Homo sapiens: one gene and its partners. The protein of the gene in region 2 interacts with the protein of the main gene of each other region in a biochemical or structural test. Each region holds a gene or a part of one and is shown on either strand. Other genes may lie near its edges.

Region 1 (3,500 bases), on a different chromosome or scaffold from region 2:
AAGTTTGTTAAAAGTTGTCTTATTGTCTAGAATATGGTCTACTTTGGAGAATGTTTCATGTGTACTTGGGGAGTATATACTTTTAAATCACTGTTATTCAGTGATTTCTTTCTTTAAATGGGCAAGTCCCCTACATGGTCTTCATACTTTTGGTCACTCCAGAGTGCCTTAAACATTTGGTCTTTAAAAAAAAAATTTTTTTTATCCAGAGTTTATCATTTTTATTTGTGAGACGATTAGTCTGTCACAGTTTACCACTACCATAGCCAGAACTCTTAGATTTCTTGTAATACAAGATGAAACTTTCTTTAAGCCAGTGTGTATTTTTTTTTTTTGGTTCTTTCAAACAAAAACTTCTAACTCATGCAGGTACACAGTAGTTCACACTGTATAAAATGAAATGCCAAGAACATGTAGGGGTGAGAAATAGGGAACTCTAGCTAGAACTATTTTTTGACTTGAATTGACCTGAATTAAAATAAATTAGAAACCAATTATACAGGAGGAGGAAGCACATACACCTGCTTTGTTTATCTGTAGATGAAACTATTTACAAAATGTTTCCATAGTATTTACAAATGAAGAAGGAAATAAATTGAAACACTACCTTTACACTCTGGAGCAGCACGACTCCACACTGAATTGTCACCACAATAAATCGTGCTCTCTCCAATAAGTGAAAATGGATCTGGTCCAGGTGCAGGATCACAACTATAAGTTACTGCATCAAGATACTCAAATACTTCTACTTCACTAAAGGTGTGTTTTCCATTTTTTATTTTTGGAGGTGGTGTACACAAAACCTCTTAAAAATGAAGAAAAAGAGGAAAGGAAATGTAAAAGATTAAGACAGCATTAGTAAAATTTCTGTGTCTTCAATAAATTTGTCAATATAGGGTTTCTACAAGCTGTTTGTGAATTCAATATGGATTTAAAAGAAGGTTTCTATGAGCAAATATATCATCCCAAATTCAAACCATTAATGTAGTAACTAACTTTCAGAACAAATCTCATTTTCTTAAAGTGTAAATACCTATTGATATGGTTTGGATCTGTGTCCCCACCAAATCGCATGTCAAATTGTAGTCCACAATGTTGGAGGTGGGGCCTGGTGGGAGGGGTCTGAATCATGGGGGTGGATTTCTCATGAATGGTTTAGCACCGTCCCCTTGGTGCTGTTCTCGTGATACTGAGTGCTTGGGAGATCTGGTTATTTAAAAGTGCGCAACACCTCCCGTCCTCCCCACCTTGCTCCTCCTGCTCCTGCCATGTGAGACACCTTGCTCTCCTTCTGTCTTTCCCAATGGTTGTTAAGTTTCCCGAGGCCTACCCAAACCCCCAGCAGATGCCAGCACCATGCTTCCTGTACAGCTTGTAGAAACATGAGCCAATTAAACTTCTTTTCTTTATAAATTACCCAGTCTCAGGTATTTCTTTAGAGCAATACGAAAACGGCCTAATACGCCTGTATTTATTTGGAAGGCCATGCTAAGTTCTGTTCTAGTCATCACAAGAAATGCTGACAATTAATGAGAAAATATGCTTAACTCGGTGCTAGTTAAGAAATCCTTTGCAATTTATAAATATATCCATTTTCTAAATTGGTGATTCACAATACCACCAAAATATTATTGTCTTTTTTCACTCTGATCCTAATAAGAATATAGTGATATTTTTCCAAAGGCTACATATTGTGTGATAACACAACAGGCCAAATACAATCTTGCTTTAAGCCAGATGTTGAAGAGATATGCAAAAAATGTGAACAATGCCACTATTCTCACTAATTTTATTTTGATTTGGAAAATTATTATTTTTCATAAAAATTATGTTACATATGTTAATTTGTATTGCATTTATTCTTACAAATTAATCAGGCCAGGTGGGGTGGCTCACATTTGTAATCCCAGCACTTTGGGAGGCCCACGGGGGCAGACTGCTTGAGCATGGGATTTCAAGACCAGCCTGGGCATCATGGCAAAACCCCGTCTCTTCAAAAATTACAAAAAGCCAGGCATAGTGGCACATGCCTGAAGCCCCAGCTACTGGAGAGGCTGAGGCTGCAATGAGCTGAGATTGTGCCACTGCACCCCAGCCTGGGAAATAGCCTGAGACCGTGTCTTAGGAAAAACAAACAAAACCAAAAAGAATCAATAATTATTTAAAAACCTCTCCGTTTGAATTCCAATATGATAAATACCAATAGATATAACCCACATAAAAGAAACCTCTTTGGGATCTTTGTTAATCTTAAAGTGTAAAGGGTGTAAAGGAGGCAAAAATCTTTGAGGACTACTGGTCTAAATTTAAAAAAAAAGAATTTACTTACTTTCACATATTGGGGGCTTACCGCTCCAAATTGCTACTGATCCTTTAAGTTCACAATATAGAATTTCTTCACCAATTAAGTAATAACTAAATGAGAAAAGAAAGGGTTACTGTTTTGTATAGCAATTAATAAGACACACATAATAATGAAGGAATTTTTTATATGGTTTCTTTTCTACACTACAGTAGTTTGAGGGGGTGGTTTCTTAAACAACATACTATATAACGAAAGTGCTAAATAAATCTGCAATTTAATCAAATAGAGTTTCCCCATTTGAATATATATTGGCCAAGAGCAAAGATGTCTAAATAAATCTGCTGTGCCTTTCCACCCAGCCTCTTTGCTGCCTCCTGCAATCACATTACACATTCATTTCTGTGCCTTTTCTCACACCACTTTGCACAGTAAGGACAAGGACTGTGTAGAGAGAACAGGCCCTAGAGCTGGAATGGATAGATTCAAGTCCCTGCTTCTCAACTTATCTAGTTTCTTGAGCTTGGGTAAGTCACTTAAAGTTCCTTCACTCAGCTTCCTAATTGATTAAAAGGGGATAACAGTACATGGGGTTGTTTAGGGGATTAGATAAGTTAGCATTTGGCACATAGATAGTGCTACATGAGTTTTAGCTTCTATTAATATTATTTAGAACAGAGTGTATTTCTAGGAATAGCTCACTGAGTATAAGAATACTTTCATTAAGTATACCCCTATACTCAATGAAATCTTCCCTGATTTAAATTCACAGGAATCTCTCCTCCTTCTGGACTCTTAGAGTAATTATCATGAATAATTCTACTTATTTGGTATTTCTCATTTAGTATTTTGCTTTTATTGCTCTCAGTATATATTATTTCTCAATAAGGTTAGAACTTCTTTTAGGAAGGTCACTGTCTTAAAGTTTTGGTATCCCTCGGTGTGCCTAGCAAGCAGTATGTGTCAACTGAATATTCCAATATTTCTACTTGACCAAATTTTAAAAACTGTCAGTTGCCTTACATAGTCACAGCTGATTTTTCCTCCAAGACTCACTTACTTTTTCTATATTATGGTGTGTTACTGCTATTGTTTGAATCTGGTTTGTCTCTACCAAAACTCATATTGAAATTTAATTGCCAGTGTAACAGCATTGAGAGGTGGTGGGGCCTTTAAGAAATGACTAGGTCATTAAGAG
Region 2 (3,500 bases):
CAAACTGGGCCATTTGAGATAGAACCAGGTGAAAGAAGAGAGGAGTACAGGTCACCTGGTGTCTGAAAAAAGCTAAATATGGTTCTACACTCCCTGGCAGCCAAAGGGAAATGGGAAACAGATTTCAGTCAGATGAGAGAGAAAATATATCTCTACTAACCACCTTTCCTGGCCACCAAAGTGGGGAATATGTAGATGAAAAGATGCAGAAATGCTGTTCGTAGGTGGGGGATGTGGAGACTGGAGGCTCTTGCGACTCCTCTGCCTGTCTCCTTCCTGGGATGTGTAACTAAGAAAGTACTATCATTATTGCTGTTGATAGTAATTTATTAATTAATTATAATTAATTAATTATGGGGCATAGTACTGAATGTACATACTATGGGGACATAGTAGTGAAAAGAAACAAATAGGCCAGGCATGGTGGCTCACGCCTGTAATCCCCACACTTTGGGAGGCCGAGGTGGGCAGATCACTTGAGGCCAGGAGTTCGAGACCAGCCTGACCAACATGGCGAAACTCCATCTCTACCAAAAATACAACAAATTAGCCTTGTATGGTGGCACACGCCTGTAATCCTAGCTACTCTGGAGGTGGGAAAATCGCTTGAACCCGGGAGGCGGAGGTTGCAGTGAGCCGAGGTGGCGCTTCTGCACTCCACCCTGGGCGACACAGTGAGACTTTGTCTCAAAATAAATAAATAAATACATATAAAAACACAATATACCTAAAAACATAACATATTACACATTTTGTAATGTATAATATACAATATAATTTAATAATATAATATGACACAATAATATAATTAGTAATGAAATACCAAATAAATTTTGTTTGATAAATAATAAATGACTTTCAGGATTCATATTAATGATGCAAATATATTTCATATATGGAATGTAAAACAATATTTATTAAATAACCTTATGTATCAAATAGTTAAACATAGAGTTGCCATATCACCCAGCAATTCCACTCCTAGGTATATGCCCAAGAGAAGTGAAAACATGTGTCATCTCCACCTAAAAACTTATACACAAATGTTCATAGTAGCATTATTCACTGTAGCCAAATAGTGGAAGGAACGCAGTATCCACCAATGGATGAATAGATAAACAAAATGTGGTGTATCCATACAATGGAATATTATTCAGCCACAAAAAGGAATGCAATTCTGACACCTGCAAAATGTGGATGAACTTGAAAACATTATGCCAAGTGAAAGCAGCCTGTCACAAAGGCCACATGGTGCATGATTCTGTTTATATAAAGTGCCCAGAACAGGCAAATGCAGAGATGAAAGTAGATTCGCGGTTGCCTAGGGCTGAGGGACATAGGAAGATCTTTGGGGATGGCTGAAGGGAACAGGGTTTCTTCTGGAGGTGATGAAATGTTCTCAAATGCATCGTGGTGATGTTTGCATAATTGTGAATACACTAAAAACCACTGAATTGTACACATTAAATAGGTGACTACTGTGGTATGTAAATTATATCTCAATAAACCTCTTACCGAAAAGCAGAGTGACATAATATAGTAGATACTACAGTAGATCACAGCACAATAATACAATAAAATGACACTGCCCCCCAGAACCTGCTTTACAGCATGACAGTCAATCCCAGCCACTGTCTTCCCTAGTCCTTGCCACACCCCACGAGGTGGGAATCAACGATCCCATTGTTCAGATGAGGAAGCCAAGGCTCAGAGTGAGCTGTGATCTGTCTGGTCCCAGACTGAGTCAGGGCTCCCACTTCCTTGCACTCTGGCTCCAGTGCCTAGGGCCCCGGGATGGGCAGGCCCTGGCAGGAAGACCTCCGTGGGGCGGCTCACCTGAATGCTGGGCCCACCTGTCCTACAGTGTCGCTAGCCTCCAGCACGGTGGGGCCGGGCGGGCAGATTGTGCACACGGAGACCACGGAGGTCGTGCTCTGTGGAGACCCCCTCAGCGGCTTTGGCCTCCAGCTCCAGGGCGGCATCTTCGCCACCGAGACCCTGTCCTCCCCACCCCTCGTGTGCTTCATCGAGCCTGACAGTCCGGCTGAGAGGTGAGCCTCCTGCCCCCTCCCTACTGAGCCTGCCACTCTCTGAGAGAAACTGAGTCACAGCACCAAGCCCTAGCTTCACAAGCGCATCTCACTTAACCATTGCATCAGCCCCAGCACCAGCCCCATTTTACAGATGAGGAAACCGAGGCTCAGAGAAGCTGACTCACTTGCCCAGGATTACACAGCTCACCCATGGAATCCCAGGGCTTGAACCCCTGTCTGCCTGAAGGCAGAGTCCTCTGTATACACAACTTGTAAGGCCCATGCCATCATCCCCATTGGACAGACAGGGAAACTGAGGTCCAGCAAGGTCCAGCCCTTAGCCAGATTCCTGAGGATACACAGGTGGGCCAGGGCAGAGCTGAGAGTCACCCCAGACCAGGAGGTGTGACCCAGGTTCAGTCCTGCCCTGCATGGCGTTCTTGTCTCCCAATGGACCTGTCACGGAGCCTCTTCTCTCTGCCGGGCCCCCTGGGTTCAGGTGTGGGCTGCTGCAGGTGGGGGACCGTGTCCTGTCCATCAATGGCATTGCCACCGAGGACGGGACTATGGAGGAAGCCAACCAGCTCCTGCGGGACGCCGCACTGGCCCACAAGGTCGTGCTGGAGGTGGAGTTCGATGTGGCGGGTGAGTGAGTGGCCCAAGCTTCCTCCTCATATTTCAGGGCCCTGCACCCCTCCTCTCTTTATCCTGCCTCGCCTGTGCAAACGCTCCACCCCATCCCCCTCTGTGCCCAGTGCCCTTCTCCCAGGGGCTTTGCAGCTTATAGTGGGAAGGGAAGCCTTGGCACGGGAGGGAGAAGTTTCCACACCAGGAGACTTTTGCAGAGGGGCAGGACCAAGTGGGGATGGGGTTGGGGAGCTGAAAATACTCCAAGCTCCTTCTCAGCATGGGTTAGGCAAAGAACCTCGAACAACAGTTTGGGTCAGAATTCTGCTTCTGTGACCTCAACACAGTGTGGCTTTGGACAGGACACTCCCTCCACTGTTTCCCCATCCGTAAATAGTTGATAACGATCTTTTCACTATAGGGGCGGTACTTGGGTTAGGTGAGGCATATGCCCAAGAGAAATGAAAACATGAAAATACCCAGCCACGGCCTGGCACATAGTAGGTGCTCAGGAAATATGTGCTAGATTCACACTGGGTTGTTAGGCTGTGGGGAGCTCCCTTCCCGCCCGCCACACTAGCCGACAGCCAAGAGGCCTGGTTCCAGCCCCGACTCTGGTCTGACTAGAGCAGGTCAGTTGTTTTGAGCAAATCTGTCAGCTCACTCTGCCTCAGTTTCCTCCTCTGTTGAGAGGAAGCAGGGGGATGAGATTAGAACTGTGACTTTCGGGGTCACTCCCAGCACAGCCAGAATGGGCATGGGGCTGGGGTTCGCTGAGGCTCCTCCTCTGGGTCCTCACGTCGGTTTATGTCCATCTACCCCCAGAGTCCGTCATCCCAA
Region 3 (3,340 bases), on a different chromosome or scaffold from region 2:
AGCAAATCTTTCCAGAGATTTGCTATGTCCCATGCCATGGGCAGAGATGAATACTCCCTGACGCATACCCTAGAGTTGTGCCCAGGCCTCTGCAGAGATAGACAGGGCAGAGTCACCCCAAGAGCTTGGGCTCTAGGGTCCAACAATGACCGGGATGTGACCTCAGGCAGGTACCTCTCCTTTTCACCTCCCTGTTTCTTTTTTTATTTTTGAGATAGAGTCTCGCTCTGTCAACGAGGCTGGAGTGCAGTGGTGCGATCTCAGCTCACTGCAAGCTCCGCCTCCTGGGTTCACGCCATTCTCCTGCTTCAGCCTCCTGAGTAGCTGGGACTACAGGCGTCCACCACCACGCCCGGCTAATTTTTTTTTTTTTGTATTTTTAGTAGAGACGGGGTTTCACCGTGTTAGCCAGGATGGTCTCAATCTCCTGGCCTCGTGATCCACCCACCTCGGACTCGCAAAGTGCTGGGATTACAGGCGTGAACCACCGCGCCTGGCCACCTCTCTGTTTCTTCATGTGTATAGTGGAGATTCAATTGTGCCTGCCTCATAGTTTTGTTTTGAAAATTAAATGAGAAAGAGCATATAATGCTCACATGATGGGTCTTTGTCACTACCATTAATGTCAGAGTTTGCCAATGGGCAACAGAAGCTCATTTGCGGGGAAGAGGACCCTTATCGCTAGAAAGCCCCGCCACTGGGAGGTGATGTGTGAGCCAAAATTTGAAGGATGACCAGGAGTTTGCTGGGAAGGGACCCCAGGCAGAAGAAACAGCACATGCGCAGATCTGGTAGTTGGGCTCAAAATGTAAGAAGAGAGAGTTCACTTTGATGTGGCCAGGCATGGCTCGGTCCTCTGAACCATTTTGCTGTGCTTTGGGGCAGTGGTAGTGCCTTTTGCTGGGTAGAATCAAACCATGTTCCCTGCTCTGTGTGCACAAAGGCCAGGCACAGGCCCCTCTCTAAGGGTCTTTTGATTTTGAGTCTCCTGACCCACCGTGTCTTCTGGTCACACACCACTGAGGCAACGGGGTGCAGTTTAGAAAACATGGGTCTTAGAGTCCCATAGGCCCTAGTCAGAATCCCTGCTCCATCTCCGAGTGGCTCTCCCACCTTGATTCAATCGCATGGCCTTTTTGGGCCTTAGTTTCCTTAGCTCTAGAAGTCTAAAGGGAACACTGGGTCCACTGTGGGCTAAGGCCAGGAAGGGCTATCTGGCCTAAGCCTGAAGTTCTCAGGAAACCTCAGATTTGGACTTTTGACCTGCTTCAGGATGTGGTTTAGTCATTGTGGGGTTGTTGTTGGTGGTGGATGTGGGTGTTTAAGCGATGCCTGGTGGGTAAGCCCTCTTGGGGGCAGGGATCCAGTATCCCAAGAGTGTGCATGGAGATGCTCTGGGGACATCAGAAGCTGGTGGAGGTAGTGGGGCCAGCTAGGAGGAAGAGCTATAGTGTAGGGGTCCCTGGGTGCACGCAGCCTGGACTTGAACATGTCCAACCCCTGCCCTACAGACTTCAACACTGACAACTTCATCTGCAAGGAGGACCTGGAGCTGACGCTGGCCCGGCTCACTAAGTCAGAGCTGGATGAGGAGGAGGTGGTGCTTGTGTGCGACAAGGTCATTGAGGAGGCTGACTTGGACGGTGACGGCAAGCTGGGCTTTGCTGACTTCGAGGACATGATTGCCAAGGCCCCTGACTTCCTCAGGTGCTGCCACTACAGGGGCCGGGCTTGGGCAGGGCAGAGCAGGGCAGGCCGGGATGTTGGGGCTGAGGCCCCTATCACTCGCTATTTGTGAGCAGTGGTGTGCGGCCAGGAAGCAGGAGGTCACGTTCAAGCCACCCTTGCCCTAGACGTGTGACTGGCCTTTGTCCCCTGCAGGGGGAAGGTTGAAGACCTGGGGGCCCCTTCAGTGATAAGTGGGGGCAGAACTCCCTGGGCACCGCTGTTCCTCCGTCTTCCCCCAGTGTTGATTACCTGCATCCACTATGCAGGGTTCCCTAATGAGGCACTGTCCAGCATGGGGCTGGGGCCTGCTGTGCTTTTCCCTGAGGAGCCTTTACCTGCCCGACCCAGGGCCTCTCACCCTCTCTTGCCCTTTCTCTCTTTCTAGCACTTTCCACATCCGGATCTGAGGACACTGCCGAGGCTGTAGGGGCCTAGAAGTCCACCATCCTGCCCTGCAGTCACATGGGTGTGGCCTCCAAGCTCCCCAGGAAAGCAGTGGCAGCCTCTGGGGTTTACACCACAAATATATCCTGTGGCCCTTTCAGCAAAAAAAAAACCTTAACCAGGAAGGGGGCCTGTGAAGGTTAGGACCCTTCCCACAGCCCCGCTGTGGTCCAGCCCCGGGACCCATGGCCTCTCTCCAGGCCCTCCGCACCCCGCCCCATGCCCCAGTCCTTTCCTACTCCAGAAATGCTCCCCACCCCCCCAAAGAGGGAAAAGCAGATAACCCAACAGGAGGTGGTGGGGTCTGACGTGTCCAAGTGCTGGCAGACACCCTGGTCACCCAGGACAGAGCGGAAAAAAAAAAAAGAGGTCAGGGTTTTAACGAGCTATGCAATCTTTTTCCAAAACCCAAGGTTGGGCTGCTTCCCACCCCTGCCTGTTCCCCTTCTCCCGGCCTCCTTCACAATGTGAAGCTGTGGGTGCAGTGGGCCCAAGGGCTCTTGCTCCTGTCTCTGCCTCTGGGTCATGAGTACCACCCTGCCTGCCTCCCCAACACCGTGGAATCCTCACTGGTGTGCTGTCCACAGATTTGTGAACTCCTGGTAGTAAAACACTTTTGCATCCCTTTGCTCTCCATGTATGCTAATGTTAGGAAATGTTTGAGGGTACCTTTGCTTCTGATCCTTGAAATCCCACCATTGGTGTCTCACCTCTCGGCATTAGGCAGTGCCTCCTGCTTTAGGCACTAACTTTGATTTCAGTGCGTGTGCCATCGGGAGGAAAACACATTCATGCCCCGAACCTTCCGTGAATTCCCTGACAGTATCTCTGGTTAACATTTGGGAGTGCTAACCACTCAGGCACAGGGACAGTTGCTTCAGTCTCAATCCTTAAACCCCCAAGGAGGGAGGGACTCTTACAGGCCTATATTTCAGGAAAAGCTGCATAGCCAAGTGGTCACTAAGAGTAGATTTCCCACAAATGCAACCTGAGCCCGCTCTGCCCAGGGTCAGGGCAGGGAGGAGGGGCACGTATGGTGTTCTCTCTGGAGATGATCAGTCCTGTTTTCTGCATCCCAGGCCTGGGGGTTGTTGGGAGTGGGGTAGCAAGCCAGCTGTCCACCCTTATAGAGAAGGGGACATGTGGATAGGAAGGGAAGTGACACACA
Region 4 (4,136 bases), on a different chromosome or scaffold from region 2:
TGTCTACCTTTCCTTCTACACAGATTGTGAATTCCAAGAGGACACAATGTATATCCTGTTTGTTCGCAGATGTACCTTCAATGCCCAGAATAGTATCTGGCATAGAATAAACTTTCTAAAATAAATATTTGTTGAATAAATGAATTAAAAATCTAGGTGATAACTTCAGGCATGGTTAGATCCAGGTTCTTGGCATGTCATTAGAATTTTGTCCTGTCTCATAGCTTTTCTCTCCTCTGCGCTGGCTTCATTCTCAAGCAGGCTTGATGTGTTACAGGTGATGATAAGACGGCCACCAGCGGCTGCAGGTTTACATTCTAATAATTTTGCAGCCTAAATGGAGAGAGAGTGAGTGCCTCTTTCCTGATTGTTTCAGAGAAAGCCTTGGATATATCATATTGTCTGGGCTTGGGTCAAGTGACAATCCCTAAAACAGTGTCCATGGGTAGAGGAGGAAAATGTTGTGACTGACTGGGCCTGGGTCATGCGGTCCTTTGGAACTGGGGATAAAATTCAGCTCCATTTAGACTGAGAAGAGGGGAGAGGTGGTTTCCTAAAAGAAAAGGGGGTGCTCTCACTGGAAGAAGATGGCGGCTAGACAACAAATTTCCACCGCAAATGTCAACGACCCAGCCGCCGACTGAGCCCAGAACAGCGTTCTTCTCCCGCCTCTCCATTTTCACACGCAGCCAGATGGTTAAGCTTCTCTCCTCCCAAACGTTTTTTCCCCTGCCTCTGTCGGGTAAGGGCTTCCTCATCCCTCAATGCCTGGTCCAACTATGATCTCCCTCACCCCGACTCTTAACAGGTACTATCTCTCTCCCTCTTCTGAGTATCCTGCTTGTTTCTACTTCTCTTGTAGTTAGTTTTGTACGCCATGCCTTGTATAATATTTTACTTACTTGTATACATCATGAGTTCCTTTTGAAAAAGGGTACGGTCCATTCCCGGTGTGTCCACGCCAGCCCCTCACGCCCTCTGGGAACCGCGGTGATTCGATGCCGGCTGAGGCCGCCAGGGAGCGCTCGGCGCCCGGCACGAGGCCGTCAAGGGCGGGAGGCGCTGTGATTGGCAGACGCGGCCGTCAATCGGGCGCAGGTGGGGCGGGCCGGGCCGCCTGTGAGGCCTCTGGGCGGGAGGCGGGGCCTGCATGAATGGGGCGCGCGTCGCGCGGGCTGCAGTCGGCGCTCGCGGGGGAAGCCCGAGTCTCGGCCGGGTGTGGGTGGGAGGAAGCGAGGTTGGCGGGGGAAGGGAAAGAGCGCGGGGGGCGGGGAGGGGCAGCGCCCGGGCGGCGCGCCGAGCGCGGCGAGGCGGCGGGTGTGAGCAAGAGCCGGCCGCCTCCGTCCGCCTTGCTTCGGTGCGGCTGTCCGCTACGCTGCCTCCGCCCTCGCCGCGCGCCCCCGCCAGCGGGACTCCAGGGAACCCCCGGCGCCCTCGACGGGGCCGAGGAGTCGGGACTCGGGGAGCCGGCGCTGAGGGAGGAGCCTGGTCGGAGCCGCGGAGCCGAAAGCTCCGGAGCGTGGAGGTGGGGGGCCGAGGCCCCTGAGGGGGCCCCGCCGCGATGGGCAACCTGGAGAGCGCCGAGGGGGTCCCGGGAGAGCCCCCCTCTGTCCCGTTGTTGCTGCCGCCCGGCAAGATGCCGATGCCTGAGCCCTGTGAGCTGGAGGAAAGGTTCGCCCTGGTGCTGGTGAGAGCTGAGCCCAGCCCCTTCCCCCGCGTACCGCCCCTCAGGTCCCGACGCCCGGGCTGGGACTTTGTGCTGGGCCCCCGTCCCGCCCACCCTTTCAGTCGGGGTCCCGAACGGATCCCGGCCTCCAGTGTCTTCCCAGGAACCTCTGAGCAGCCGCTGGCCGGCCCGGACAGCCCCGTCGGGGATCTCGGGACCGACGCCTCCACCGCTGGACCCTTAGGAGAAGTCCCCAGTTCGGGACCGTCCTAGGAACCAGGCTTCTCCCTCCTTCTTCCTCCCCCTTCTGCTGCCCTTTTCCCGTTTCCCCGCTTCTTCGCCAGGCTCCCCGTCCCTAGCATTCTCAGCCCGGAGCCTCTCGCGGGTGGGGGGAATTCAGAAGCGCGGCCGGCTCGCTCCTCAGCAGGCTTCCCTGAGTGGGGACACCGCCTCTCCTGCGAACATGGAGGCTTCCCAGGGAGTGGGTCCCACTCCCAGCCCAGACCAGATGTTTGGGGGGAGAGGGGGATGGGGAGGCGGCTGGCAGCTCCTGAAGGGGGTGGAATAAAGAGTATGCCATTCTGCTTATTTTCAGAACGGCCTGCAGGCATCCTGCTAAGTTAGAGTGGATTTGCCTGAAAGGCTGAACATGTGGATAAACCATTTCACTGGGGTATTTCTCCAAGTGAAACAATACACAAACCATCCCGCCTCCTCCCCCCCTTTTCACGTTAAGCCATAGTGACTGGTTTGTGTTGTTTAGCCTGTGCTTTTTAGTCTTTCTGTGGGTTTCAAACGGTCTGTATAAATGGGTTTTTAGAGCTGACTTTGGGATTCTTCTTTGGTGTGGGAATTGGACATTGATGTCAGTGGCTCTATGAAGCGAGAGGTTCTGAGCTGGTATCACCGGGAAGGAGCCAGAAAATATGTTTGCGCTGAAAATGAAGTTTTGCAGAGCGAAAACATTGGTAAACCGGGGTTAATCTTTGAGAAATTTGGGGAAATAGTTCTCACTTCCCCAAAGAGTTTTCTAAGAAGCAGTAATAATTCTGGCGTTATTGTTGGTATGGCCGACTCTGCCTTTGCCTCTGCCCATCAGGAGGGATAAGTTGTGGACTTAGCAGCCTTATTGGATTTCATCTGCCTTGGAATAAGGAGATTAGATCTGTTGGCAACAGTGGAGCTGTCTAGAGATCTTGGCCTCTCCGATGGTAGAGAATCTGACATCAGCCCACTGGCACCAGAGCTGGCTCAAAGAGGGTCCACAGTGTTCCAAGGGGAAGTGGTGTCGCTGGCACCTCTCTGCCCGCCAGCTCTGCGAAGGGCCAAAGGGATGTGGGCCATACATCCTGTGGCCCTCTGCATTTCCCCCAGCCTCCTCGGGGGATCGGGTGAGTCAGTGATTACCAATGTGCTGTGACCATCTCACAGGCTGAGGAGGAGAGACTGGGACTTAGTGGCCTTGAGAACAAGAGCCCAACTGTTGGGGAAAAGAGTGGGAGGGGATCTGCACTCTGGTGGGGGTGTGAAAATCCCCAGCAAGCTGACACAAGTTAGCTATAGAAACTGGGGAGAAAGGGATGGGGTGAGGTGGATTGGGTGGGAGGCTGCCTTAGGTGGGAGCTGCCAGGCCATTTTTTGTGAGAGCTCAGAACCAGAATCCATCATGTTCTCATTGGCCCTTGGTTGACCATTTCGTTTAGTTAGCAAACTAATGGCTTAATATTCACAAAATGCACGTGATGTCCTAGTTAACCAGGACACCAGAGCACCAGGAGAACCCAGGTCAAATGGGGGACTGGACCACCCACTTGCATGCCTTCCTTTCTGTATAAAATTTTGATTTGTTTCCTCATGCCTTTTGTTTTGGTCTTGTTTCTGTGTGCCTGAGCTGCTGCTGATGAAGGGTTGGAACAGGGCAGGCCAGAGCTAGTTAGTTGTCTCAGGAGACGGGATTTCACCTCAGTTTTCCAATACAGGGAAATCATCCCTTCTTGGGGATTTGAGTTCTTCTCTGGGGGCTCTTAAGTGTCCCTGTGTCCACTGTTCTGAAAGGTACCCTTTCTACCATGCTTTGGGAACAGTACTGACTGAGTCAGGTGTTTGACCCAGGTACAGGCTTAGGGGTATTTCCTGAACAGTCAGGAGAAGCATAGTGTAGTAGAAAAATCAAGGACTCTGGCTTAGCAAGTATCTTAACTTCTCTGAGCCTAGACTTCTTCCTCATCTGTAAAATGGAGGTAATCCTGTTCTGGTGAGATTGTGAGAATTAGGTGAGCCCCTGTATATAAGGTGCTTGGCACCCAGTAAGTACTCAATATAGATTATAGATTAGCTTCTTTTTTTTTTTTTTTTTTTTTTTTTTGAGATGGAGTTTGGCTCTGTCATCCAGGCTGGAGTGCGGCAGCACGATCTCAGCTCACTGCAAACTCAGCCTCCCGGGTTCAAGCAGTTCTCCTGCTTCAGCCTC
Region 5 (3,500 bases), on a different chromosome or scaffold from region 2:
CTTTGATAAAATTCAACATCGCTTCACATTAAAAACTCTCAATAAACTAAGTATTGATGGAACATACCTCAAAATAACAAGAGTTATTCATGACAAACCCACAACCAATATCATATTGAATGGGCAAAAGCAAGAAGCATTCCCTTTGGAAACCAATACATAACAAAACTGCCCTCTCTCACCACTCCTGTTCAATATAGTATTAGAAATTCTGGACAGGGCAATCAGGTAAGATAAAGAAATAAAGCATATTCAAATAGGAAGATAGGAAGTCAAATTTTCTCTGTTTGCAGACAACATGATTGTATATCAAGAAAACCCCATCATGTCAGCCCAGAAACTCCCTAAACTGATAAGCAACTTCAGCAAAGTCTCAGGATACAAAATCAATGTGCAAAAATCACAAGCATTCCTTTACATCAATAACAGACAAGCAGAGAGCCAAATCATGAATGAACTCCCATTCACAATAGCTACAAAGATAATAAAATACCTAGGAATACAGCTAACAAGGATGTGAAGGACCTCTTCAAGGAGAACTACAAACCACTGCTCAAGGAATTAAGAGAGGACACAAAAAAATGGAAAAACATTCCAACCTCATGGATAGGAAGAATCAGCATTGTGAAAATGGCCATACTGCCCAGAGTAATTTATAGAATAAATGCTACTTCCATCAAACTACCATTGACATTCTTCACAGAATTAGAAAAAGAAACTACTTTAAATTTCATATGGAATTAAAGAAGACCCCGTATAGCCAAGACAATCCTAAGCAAAAAGAACAAAGCTAGAGGCATCATGCTACCTGACTTCAAACTAAACTACAAGGCTACAGTAACCAAAACAGCATGGTACTGGTCCCAAAACAGACAGACCAACGGAACAGAAGAGAGACCTCAGAAATAACACCACACATCTACAACCATCTGATCTTTGACAAATCTGACAAAAACAAGCAATGGGGAAATAATCTCCTATTAAATAAATAGTGCTGGAAAACTGGCTAGTCATAGGCAGAAAACTAAAACTGGACCCCTTCCTTACACCTTATGCAAAAACTAACTCAAGATGTATTAAAGACTTAAATGTAAAACCCAAAACCATAAAAACCCTAGAAGAAAACCTAGGCAATACCATTCAGGAAATAGGCATGGGCAAAGACTTCATGATGAAAACACCAAAAGCAATTGCAACAAAAGCCAAAATTGACAAATGGTATCTAACCAAACTAAAGAGCTTCTGCACAGCAAAAGAATCATCAGAGTGAACAGGCAATCTACGGAATGGGAGAAAATTTTTACAATCGACTCATCTGACAAAAGTCTAATATTCAGAATTTACAAGGAACTTAAATTTACAAAAACAAACAACCCCATCCAAAAGTGGAGAAAGGATATGAACAGACACTTCTCAAAAGAAGATGTTTACATGGCCAACAAACATGAAAAAAAGCTCAACATCACTCATCATTAGACAAATGCAAATCAAAACCACAATGAGATACCATCTCAGGCCAGTCAGAATGGCAATTATTAAAAAGTCAAGAATAGATAGATGCTATAGATGCAATTGGTGCTAGCAAGGCTGTGGAGAAACAGGTACGCTTTTACACTGTTGGTGGGAATGTAAATTAGTTCAGCTATTGTGGAAGACAGTATGGCAATTCCTTACAGATCTAGAACCAGAAATACCATTAGACCCAGCAATCCCATTATTGGGTATATACACAAAGGAATATAAGTCTTTCTACCGTAAAGCCACATCCACATGTATGTTTACTGCAGCACTATTTACAATGGCAAAGTTATGGAACCAACCCAAATGCCCACCAATGATAGACTGGATAAAGAAAATGTGCTACATATACACCATGGAATACTATGCAGCCATAAGAAGGAATAATATCATGTCCTTTGCAGGGACGTGGATGAAGCTGGAAGCCATCATCCTCAGCAAACTAACACAGGAACAGAACACCAAACACCACATGTTCTCATTCCTAAGTGGGAGTTGAACAATGAGAACACATGGACACAGGGAGGGGAACAACACACACCAGGGACTGTTGCGGGGTGGGGGCAAGGGAAGGGAACTTAGTGGATGGGTCAATAGGTGCAGCAAATCACCATGGCACATGTAAACCTAGATAACAAACCTGCACATTTTGCACGTGTATCCTGGAACTTAAAGTAAAATTTTTAAAAAATAAATTTTAGGGCAAACTAGCTGTGCTGTCTATGAAAATATATTTTGCATTTTTATGGTTCCTTTTACTTCAGCATTTCAAAGACGTTAAACTTATTTAAATTTTCACTATATGAGAAAGGTATTATACCAAGTATCAGTAAGAGATTTTGCCAGAAAAGTAAACCACAGGAAGTTTGAGTGAGTTTTTCACCCAATGAAATATCAATTTGTTTAATATCTGAGAATAGCATTTAGGACTCATGACAGATGTCCATGAATTCAAAATCAATTTCAAGTTAGCATGCCTAAGAAATTTTTAAAAAAACAGTATTCATCATACAACTATGGAACAGAAATTTATAATTTAGTCATAAAATAAAGAGAAACGGTATATTATTTTAATGAGAAAATTTCAAGTATCATTAACTACTGTCTAGGTTTGCTGATGTCAGAAGTGATGGAAAATCTACAGCAGGTGAATCACATTACAGTCTGTAAATTCAATACTAATTTACTAGCATTACTACTTTTGAGAAAGTGCTGAAATTAAATTGCATTTGTTAAATGACAATTGTTAGGGAACCACATCAAATGGAATTATTGTTTCAAAACTGCAATTCAGACAGCCTCCACATTTTGATTTTTGTTGACCTCCAAGAAGTAAAATGTTGACCATTAGATAACGCTTTATGTAATTCTCATAGCTTGAGAAACAGTATACATTTAATAAGAATATATTACCTCATTAATATACTTAGCTAATATAAAATATAATTTTTTCATTCATATATAATATACTGAGTTAATATTATAAGTAATATAATTAGTTAATATAGAAGTTTAAAGTTAATAAAATATAGTTAGTGACTTATTTACCATATTATACTTTATATTTTAATTTTTCCAACTGTTTCAAATATATCATGTTTTATAAAAAACATGTTTGATGGTTATATTCATGTGTTAAATTTCCAAAGCCTTATTTGTCCAGCATGAGGAGATATCACTTCAGGAAAAACAACAACAACAAAAAAAAAACCTTGAACATTCAACATGTTGACATACTTTGCTAATAGATTTTCCCCACATGACCTCAAGTTTGATTTTTATGAATGAAAGCCTTTTGCACTGTTGCACTGACGCATCGGTTGTTACATTAATTGGGGATAAAAGGTGCTTTTAATGAAAATCGTCTGGAAACAAAAGGCAGCATGGGGAAGCAGCAGTTGTCACACTCTTGGACAGAAGGTGGCAGCAGCTGAAGTTCCTGGACTGTTCACAGGCCTTCTCTCTGTGCTTCATATTTTCAC
Region 6 (4,127 bases), on a different chromosome or scaffold from region 2:
TTTTCTGTTTCAGATTTGCAAGTACCAGTCTCTAACCTTGTGATCATGCCCCGTTTTCCAGCTCCCATCTTCCTCTTTAACATACGTAGTTGTTGAAACTGACGCGTGATTTTCCTGTCTCTTGTTCCAAGGGATGTTGGAGGAGGAAAGGCAGGTGTTAGCACAGCAATAATTACTTAGTGCAGATAGCAATTAAAGGTCCCCCTTGAGCCACATAGTGGCCCTCTGTTCACCACACAATTTCTGCTCCCCAGGAAACCCTGACGAGAAACTCATCAGAGGCAAAAGGCCGAGCCTGTCCTGCTTGTCCCCTGAGCCTCTGGGCTGAAATGATTCCTTTGGAGCTTGAAAGGCAGCCAAATGATGGGTTCAGGGTGGGAAACCCTTGACTTGTTCTCCCTGTCCCTGGGAATGCCTTGCCCTTCTCAGCCTGTTATTTAATTACCTGGGTAGCTACTTCATGAGGTCATGAAACACGCCCCCATCCAGTTCTCAGAACCCTCCCTCCCCATCCTGTGTGTGTATTGTGTCTGTGTACGCACAATCCACAAACCCACAGCAGTTTGAAAGCACAGGATGCTTTTTCTCCGATTGCTTGCCCTGCTAATGGAAGGAGAGACTGGGTCTCCCCAGTGAGCCATGTGCTGAATATATGCTGACCCCTTCCAAGGGAAGAGGGCCATGTGGAAGGCAGGCTCCGAGGTGTCGAGTGGGCTCCAGAGGCAATACACTCTGGACCCTTTGCATTCTTGGATGTGGCACTAGGCCAGTTAAAAGCTAAACTTTGAAGGAGGCCAACAGAGGAGCGAAGGGAGATAGGAGCCCGACTCTGTAATTCTAGGGACTTGGGGGTCTCCCCTTTGAACTAATTTAAAGAGACTGTTTTGTTGTTTCTTTTGAGTCAGACTGAATTGGAGGACACCCCTATTGAACTGCTTTGGGGTATGCTGTGGGGTTTTTGTTCAGATGGGGAAACTCTAGGATTCCTCCCTGATGCCTCAGAAATTTTATCTTTTAGATCTTGCAGATTGATTTGCATACTTTGACCTTGGGGCAGGGAAGTGGAGGGTGGTAAGGGGAATGACTTTTTCTTTTGGCCCTTCAAAATCGTAAATGTTTTTGCGTATTGTAGCCTGCGTAGTGCCAGCTACATCTAACTTCCTGTGATGTAATTGTTTCCTCACTAGCAAGAGAGGGAATTGGAAAGACTGTATTTTTTGTGGATTTGATGTGTACGTATCTTTAACCTTTCACCCCTTCCCATTTTTAATAGTTGTAGCTGGTTTTCTGGGGGCAGGGGGCTGGGAGGTAGAACAGGAAGGGAGGCATCCTCCCCTTTTTGTCATATTGAGCTAAAGAATGCTAACTGATGGTGGTAGCTTTATAGCAGCGACTCCCATTGTTGAGCAAGATGGAATTTGTGAAAGCCATTTATATCCTCCGTCTAGTAGGCGTCACTTAGCCAGGGCTATAATTAGTGGCCATGCGCTATTTATTGTGTGTTTGGTGGTGAGAACCCTGGGAGCTGAGCCAAGCATCCTGCCCTGGCACAGCCAGACAGGGTGCCCGGAGAGACCGGAAGGCCTCTACCAGGATCGGGGTTAGGTTGTTACCCTTAGAATCAGACCTGGAGAGACAAGAGTTGCTTCTCCAAGTCAGTCTTTGAGCCTGGGATGCTCTCCTTAGAAAAATGTATGTGCCCAATAAAAATGTGCACAATTTCAAGGATTTTCCAATGCCCTCTTGGAACCATCAGTGGAACCTAGGTTAAGATGGCATCCCCAGGAAGGGACTGCTCCAGGTCCATCGCCTCCAGAGGCAGAATCTGCAAGTATCTTGGGAACTGTAAAGCTTCTGTGTGCTTATGTCTCTTGTGACAATAGCTGCTGTAAACTGTAAAGGTCCTACTTGGGGATAGTCTTTGCTGGGACCCCAAAAGCTCTATCCTCACCAGTGGGGATTAAAGACTGGCAGAAGTGTAGTGTAGGGCCGTGGCTCTTAGGCAGGCACAACAGTTTCATATCTAGGTTACTCCAGTGTTTGATTCTTGTGTTTTGCCATTGCCCTTAGATTCTAATCCCAACTCACTCCCACCATCTTTTCTTCCTTCCAGACTGTGTCAGGGAAAAGGGAGGCAAGGTCCTGGTCCACTGTGAGGCTGGGATCTCCCGTTCACCCACCATCTGCATGGCTTACCTTATGAAGACCAAGCAGTTCCGCCTGAAGGAGGCCTTCGATTACATCAAGCAGAGGAGGAGCATGGTCTCGCCCAACTTTGGCTTCATGGGCCAGCTCCTGCAGTACGAATCTGAGATCCTGCCCTCCACGCCCAACCCCCAGCCTCCCTCCTGCCAAGGGGAGGCAGCAGGCTCTTCACTGATAGGCCATTTGCAGACACTGAGCCCTGACATGCAGGGTGCCTACTGCACATTCCCTGCCTCGGTGCTGGCACCGGTGCCTACCCACTCAACAGTCTCAGAGCTCAGCAGAAGCCCTGTGGCAACGGCCACATCCTGCTAAAACTGGGATGGAGGAATCGGCCCAGCCCCAAGAGCAACTGTGATTTTTGTTTTTAAGACTCATGGACATTTCATACCTGTGCAATACTGAAGACCTCATTCTGTCATGCTGCCCCAGTGAGATAGTGAGTGGTCACCAGGCTTGCAAATGAACTTCAGACGGACCTCAGGGTAGGTTCTCGGGACTGAAGGAAGGCCAAGCCATTACGGGAGCACAGCATGTGCTGACTACTGTACTTCCAGACCCCTGCCCTCTTGGGACTGCCCAGTCCTTGCACCTCAGAGTTCGCCTTTTCATTTCAAGCATAAGGCAATAAATACCTGCAGCAACGTGGGAGAAAGAAGTTGCTGGACCAGGAGAAAAGGCAGTTATGAAGCCAATTCATTTTGAAGGAAGCACAATTTCCACCTTATTTTTTGAACTTTGGCAGTTTCAATGTCTGTCTCTGTTGCTTCGGGGCATAAGCTGATCACCGTCTAGTTGGGAAAGTAACCCTACAGGGTTTGTAGGGACATGATCAGCATCCTGATTTGAACCCTGAAATGTTGTGTAGACACCCTCTTGGGTCCAATGAGGTAGTTGGTTGAAGTAGCAAGATGTTGGCTTTTCTGGATTTTTTTTGCCATGGGTTCTTCACTGACCTTGGACTTTGGCATGATTCTTAGTCATACTTGAACTTGTCTCATTCCACCTCTTCTCAGAGCAACTCTTCCTTTGGGAAAAGAGTTCTTCAGATCATAGACCAAAAAAGTCATACCTTCGAGGTGGTAGCAGTAGATTCCAGGAGGAGAAGGGTACTTGCTAGGTATCCTGGGTCAGTGGCGGTGCAAACTGGTTTCCTCAGCTGCCTGTCCTTCTGTGTGCTTATGTCTCTTGTGACAATTGTTTTCCTCCCTGCCCCTGGAGGTTGTCTTCAAGCTGTGGACTTCTGGGATTTGCAGATTTTGCAACGTGGTACTACTTTTTTTTTCTTTTTGTCTGTTAGTTATTTCTCCAGGGGAAAAGGCAATAATTTTCTAAGACCCGTGTGAATGTGAAGAAAAGCAGTATGTTACTGGTTGTTGTTGTTGTTCTTGTTTTTTATAGTGTAAAATAAAAATAGTAAAAGGAGAAAAGCACTTCTTCATGTTGTTGGTGAATTGGGATAAGGTAGGAATACCCTTGGGTGGGGACCCAGCCTGCTTCATTGGGATTTATTTGTAAATGAACAACAGGGTGATGGTGGTGGAGGTGCAGCTATAGGCATGACGATACAGAATGTTGCTTTCCAACTGAGGGGTTTCCCTAAGCTAACCGGCAAGAGAATTCCTTAGTGCAGGCCTCATAGGGAGGTGGTGAGAGTATCTGCCCACTCAGGGCCCTTCACTGCCATCGCACTAGGCAAAGAGCTCTACTTGAACCTCAGATTCCTCACCTGTGAAGAGTGAGCTGAGTTAGATGATCCCAAGAGTCCCTTAAAGCATAAGGCCCTTGGTTCCAGTAAGCCTGAGTGCCAAGCTTGTGGCCAGCTACCTCCCTCCAGTGCCTGGCATATGGCAGACTCAGAAAAGGCTGGGTAAGTGGCCAAGGGATGGAGAAGTGAATGAGGTGAAAGTTTGCCCTGCCAG
Region 7 (3,318 bases), on a different chromosome or scaffold from region 2:
TTTCCCCCTCCCTTTTGTAAGAAAACCCTTAATCCTAAGGGTTGCAGAGGGACAAAGATCCATCTTCTATAACTTCTTCATGCTGAATAGGGTGATGATATTCCTGCTTAACTATTAGGGCCTCTTGTATCCATGGTAGAGAGGGGTTCAGTCAGAAAGGGCCAGTATGGTGAGGGCCATTCATAACTCTTAGTTCTGACAAAAGGTGATATCCAAAGTCCTCCAATCAGTGCTGCAGTCCATTTCCTTTGATTCGGGAGTCTCCTCCGTCTCATCCCTTCTGTGGTTCTCCAGAAAGATGTTACCAGAAAGGGGTCCCGATCCAGACCCCAAGGGAGAGGGTTCTTGGATCTTGCACAAGGTAGAATTCAGGGTGAGTCCATAGAGTAAAGTGAAAGCAAGTTTATTAAGACAGTAAAGGAATAAAAGAATGGCTACTTCATAGGCAGAGGAGCTGCAGCAAGCATCTTTTACACGTAGTCTCTGAAGAGCTCCTTACAATAGAGTTTCCAGGGCAAAACTGCCACCTTAAAGGGCAAGCGATGTCTAAGGTTTTGCCAAATTGCTTCCAGAGTGGTTGCTCTAGAATAACCAGTGGCCAGCAGTGCAGGAGAGCACCTGCTTCCCTGTTCCCTTGGGTGCATTCATTTTTCATTTGGGACAGATATACTAAAAAAGTTGGGGATAAGGATTTTGGCAGCATAATTGTGGAGACAGTGTTGCCAATTCCTGCTCCAGGACCATATGGTTCAGCTGAATATGGCAGAACCAGATTCTCTGCCTGGCTGAATGTCCCTGTCCCCTGCCCTGAGTCTCTTCCAAAATACGCTGAGTGTCTCTTCTCCTTTCCGCCCATCCAGGTGCCTCTAGATAACCATATCCCTGAGAGGGCAGGGTCTGGGAGCCAAGTCCCCACCGAACCCAAGAAACTAGAGGAGAATGAGGTTATCCCCAAGAGAATCTCACCCGTTGAAGAGAGTGAGGATGTGTCCAACAAGGTGTCAATGTCCAGCACTGTGCAGGGCAGCAACATCTTTGAGAGAACGGAGGTCCTGGCAGGTAAGTCCCCATGCTGCTTATAAGATGCCTTGAAGGTGGAATGGGGCTCAGCGGGGGAGAGCACCTGCAGGCAGGGATGCCTCCAGCCATGAGGCTCCTTGGTGCCCCTTCCTTTTGCCTATTCAGGTTGCCCTAGAACATTGAAAGACTACACCTTCCTTATGGGGTGGCTCTGACTGTGCAGCCTGGTGGAGGGAGAGGAAAAAGCACCTATCAAAGTCTTCTGGAAAATAGGCATTGAGTCATTCTTCTGCCTTAAGTCTTTCTCATTTATTTTGCAAAGGACTTTCACTGTATAAGTTTGGCATCTGGGAGTTAATCATTAAAAGTTAATTTCCCTTGTAAGTCTGGAGGCTCCTTCGAATTGGGTTAGCTTCCCCTCCCCCTACTCTATCACTTGGCAGCCTTGTGACCTTGGCTGAGAAGCTTTCGAACTTGATGAGCCTCAGTTTCCTTATCTGTAAAATGGGTACAGTGATACCTTCTGGGGTTGATATAATGAGTCCATGAAAAATAAAATATGAAATAACTTTGCACACTATAAAGGGCTATTCCGATTTGGCCTCAGTTGAGAGTTCTTTACTGGAATGTGCGGTGAGGAATGCTTTGTCCCAGGTGTTGACAAAAGGGATGGAGGGAACTCCCCAAGGTCATGGCCGAGGGCCAGCCTGGATGAACCGGCCTGGCAAGTGGGCACCCTGGGCCCATGCTGGGTAACTCCTGTCTCCTGGGAATCAACAGAGCCAGCAGCTCCAAGGAGGCTTGAGCTATAGGGACAGAGCCTGGCTTCATCCAGGACAGATGGAAGGTCTCACCTGCCTCTTGTAAAGAGGGTTCCTGGGAGCACAGCCCCTGATGACTGGGCCCACCTCAGCCCTGACCCTGGCTTCCTGGTATCTGAGCCAAAGTTCTTTTTACTTTTCTTTCAGAAGTAAAAAGATTTGCATAAGACTTTGGATTTGCATAAGGTTTTGCTCTAATTAACTAAAGGTGCTATTGCTTCTAAAGAAAAATTTGAAAACCACTGATTAATCTAAGCACCTGCTTCTTATACATGGGGAGACTGAGGCCCAGGCTTTAGGCCACATAGTAAGAAAAGAACTGAAGCCAGGTTATCTCTTTAATCTTCCATTTGAGAATTATACAAGCCTAAGAGCCTCATGTGAAAAGTTATATTGTTAGCTGGTGTGGTGGAATCCCCCATTCCAGAAGCTTTAATCAGCACCCAGGAGCCTTATTAAATGCTTGCTGTATGCTGTATGATTCCTGTGCCCCTGATTGAGTCCGTACAACACAAAACTCAGTCTAAAGAACTTATCCGAAGTCACAAAGCTGGAAGTGGCAGACCTGGCATTTGGACTGAGGACCACAGTCAGCTTCTGAGCCTGTGCTTGAAACTTGACCCTGTGGGGCATCCCAGCGCAGACCCAGGGCCTCGTGGAGGAACTGGGGTCATCAGAGGGAAAGGTGATAGAGACAAGAATGGGGTTGATGCCTGATATTCCATGTGCTTGCTCTGGCACCTCCTGGGGGTACTTTTTTGTTGCTTTTTCATAGGATTTTACCCAAGAAAGAACCTTGCTTGACTCCTCTGTGCCACTCTGTCCCCATTGTGTACATAGATTTGTAGTGTGTGCAGGGATGGAAAATTAATCTTCTTAGCCCGAGTAAGACCGAATTAGGGAACTCAATCTGCCACAGAAGGGATTCTATGAAGCATCCCTGCCCCTAGCAAACAGGAATGAGTCATTCAGGCCACCTGGCAGAGTGGACAGGCCAGACCCACTCACTGTTAGAAGCCCATCTCTGCCCAACACTAGGCAGGTTCTCCTCTCGGAGCCTGAAAGTATCATTTATTAAGCACCTCCTGTTGTGCACACCTGATTCAGGGGGTTCGGGACACAGATATAAACCTTAAACCCTTACAGTTAATGAATCTTGAGAATATGCTATGCACTAGGCATTGTTCTAAGCACTTTGAGTGGATTAATTTATTTAATCCTTAGGACAAATGTATGAGAAAGGTATGGCTCTTCCCATTTTGCGGTAGGGAGATGAAGGAAACTTGCCCCAAATCACACAGCCAGGAAGTAGGAGAGGTAGGAGTGGAAACCAGGCCTTAGCTACTGAGTTCTGTATGTAATTGTAACATAAGAGTTTGGAATTAGTATGTTCTGCATGTGTGCACTTTGAATGTACATACCTGTCTATGAAGTGTAGGCTATATAGGTAAATATGCACACAGGGAGAGCTAGAGAG

The links.
Region 1: the proteins of GRIP2 (region 2) and CD46 interact in a test that uses a peptide from one of them, tested with the Homo sapiens proteins (one large-scale study listed by IntAct).
Region 3: the proteins of GRIP2 (region 2) and CIB2 interact in a test that uses a peptide from one of them, tested with the Homo sapiens proteins (one large-scale study listed by IntAct).
Region 4: the proteins of GRIP2 (region 2) and FMNL3 interact in a test that uses a peptide from one of them, tested with the Homo sapiens proteins (one large-scale study listed by IntAct).
Region 5: the proteins of GRIP2 (region 2) and CTNNA2 interact in a test that uses a peptide from one of them, tested with the Homo sapiens proteins (one large-scale study listed by IntAct).
Region 6: the proteins of GRIP2 (region 2) and DUSP5 interact in a test that uses a peptide from one of them, tested with the Homo sapiens proteins (one large-scale study listed by IntAct).
Region 7: the proteins of GRIP2 (region 2) and SDC4 interact in a test that uses a peptide from one of them, tested with the Homo sapiens proteins (one large-scale study listed by IntAct).

The regions. Positions count from the first base shown.
Region 1 is NC_000001.11:207,758,554-207,762,053, reverse strand, and holds part of CD46 (membrane cofactor protein isoform 3 precursor), read right to left. Parts: intron 2,416-3,500; coding exon 2,330-2,415; intron 806-2,329; coding exon 608-805; intron 1-607. UniProt on the Homo sapiens protein: Acts as a cofactor for complement factor I, a serine protease which protects autologous cells against complement-mediated injury by cleaving C3b and C4b deposited on host tissue.
Region 2 is NC_000003.12:14,512,843-14,516,342, reverse strand, and holds part of GRIP2 (glutamate receptor-interacting protein 2), read left to right. Parts: intron 1-1,864; coding exon 1,865-2,051; intron 2,052-2,532; coding exon 2,533-2,678; intron 2,679-3,485; coding exon 3,486-3,500.
Region 3 is NC_000015.10:78,104,106-78,107,445, reverse strand, and holds the end of CIB2 (calcium and integrin-binding family member 2), read left to right. Parts: intron 1-1,511; coding exon 1,512-1,707; coding exon of another isoform or gene 1,708-1,798; exon of another isoform or gene 1,799-2,107; intron 2,108-2,113; coding exon 2,114-2,135; 3' UTR 2,136-2,840; downstream 2,841-3,340. UniProt on the Homo sapiens protein: Calcium- and integrin-binding protein that plays a role in intracellular calcium homeostasis. Acts as an auxiliary subunit of the sensory mechanoelectrical transduction (MET) channel in hair cells.
Region 4 is NC_000012.12:49,704,606-49,708,741, reverse strand, and holds the start of FMNL3 (formin-like protein 3), read left to right. Parts: upstream 1-1,336; 5' UTR 1,337-1,561; coding exon 1,562-1,687; intron 1,688-2,213; exon of another isoform or gene 2,214-2,592; coding exon of another isoform or gene 2,593-2,634; intron 2,635-2,720; exon of another isoform or gene 2,721-2,874; coding exon of another isoform or gene 2,875-3,057; intron 3,058-4,136. UniProt on the Homo sapiens protein: Plays a role in the regulation of cell morphology and cytoskeletal organization. Required in the control of cell shape and migration. Required for developmental angiogenesis.
Region 5 is NC_000002.12:79,876,551-79,880,050, reverse strand, and holds part of CTNNA2 (catenin alpha-2), read right to left. Parts: intron 1-3,500. UniProt on the Homo sapiens protein: May function as a linker between cadherin adhesion receptors and the cytoskeleton to regulate cell-cell adhesion and differentiation in the nervous system. Required for proper regulation of cortical neuronal migration and neurite growth.
Region 6 is NC_000010.11:110,507,907-110,512,033, forward strand, and holds the end of DUSP5 (dual specificity protein phosphatase 5), read left to right. Parts: intron 1-2,113; coding exon 2,114-2,520; 3' UTR 2,521-3,627; downstream 3,628-4,127. UniProt on the Homo sapiens protein: Dual specificity protein phosphatase; active with phosphotyrosine, phosphoserine and phosphothreonine residues. The highest relative activity is toward ERK1.
Region 7 is NC_000020.11:45,328,107-45,331,424, reverse strand, and holds part of SDC4 (syndecan-4 precursor), read left to right. Parts: intron 1-860; coding exon 861-1,059; intron 1,060-3,318. UniProt on the Homo sapiens protein: Cell surface proteoglycan which regulates exosome biogenesis in concert with SDCBP and PDCD6IP.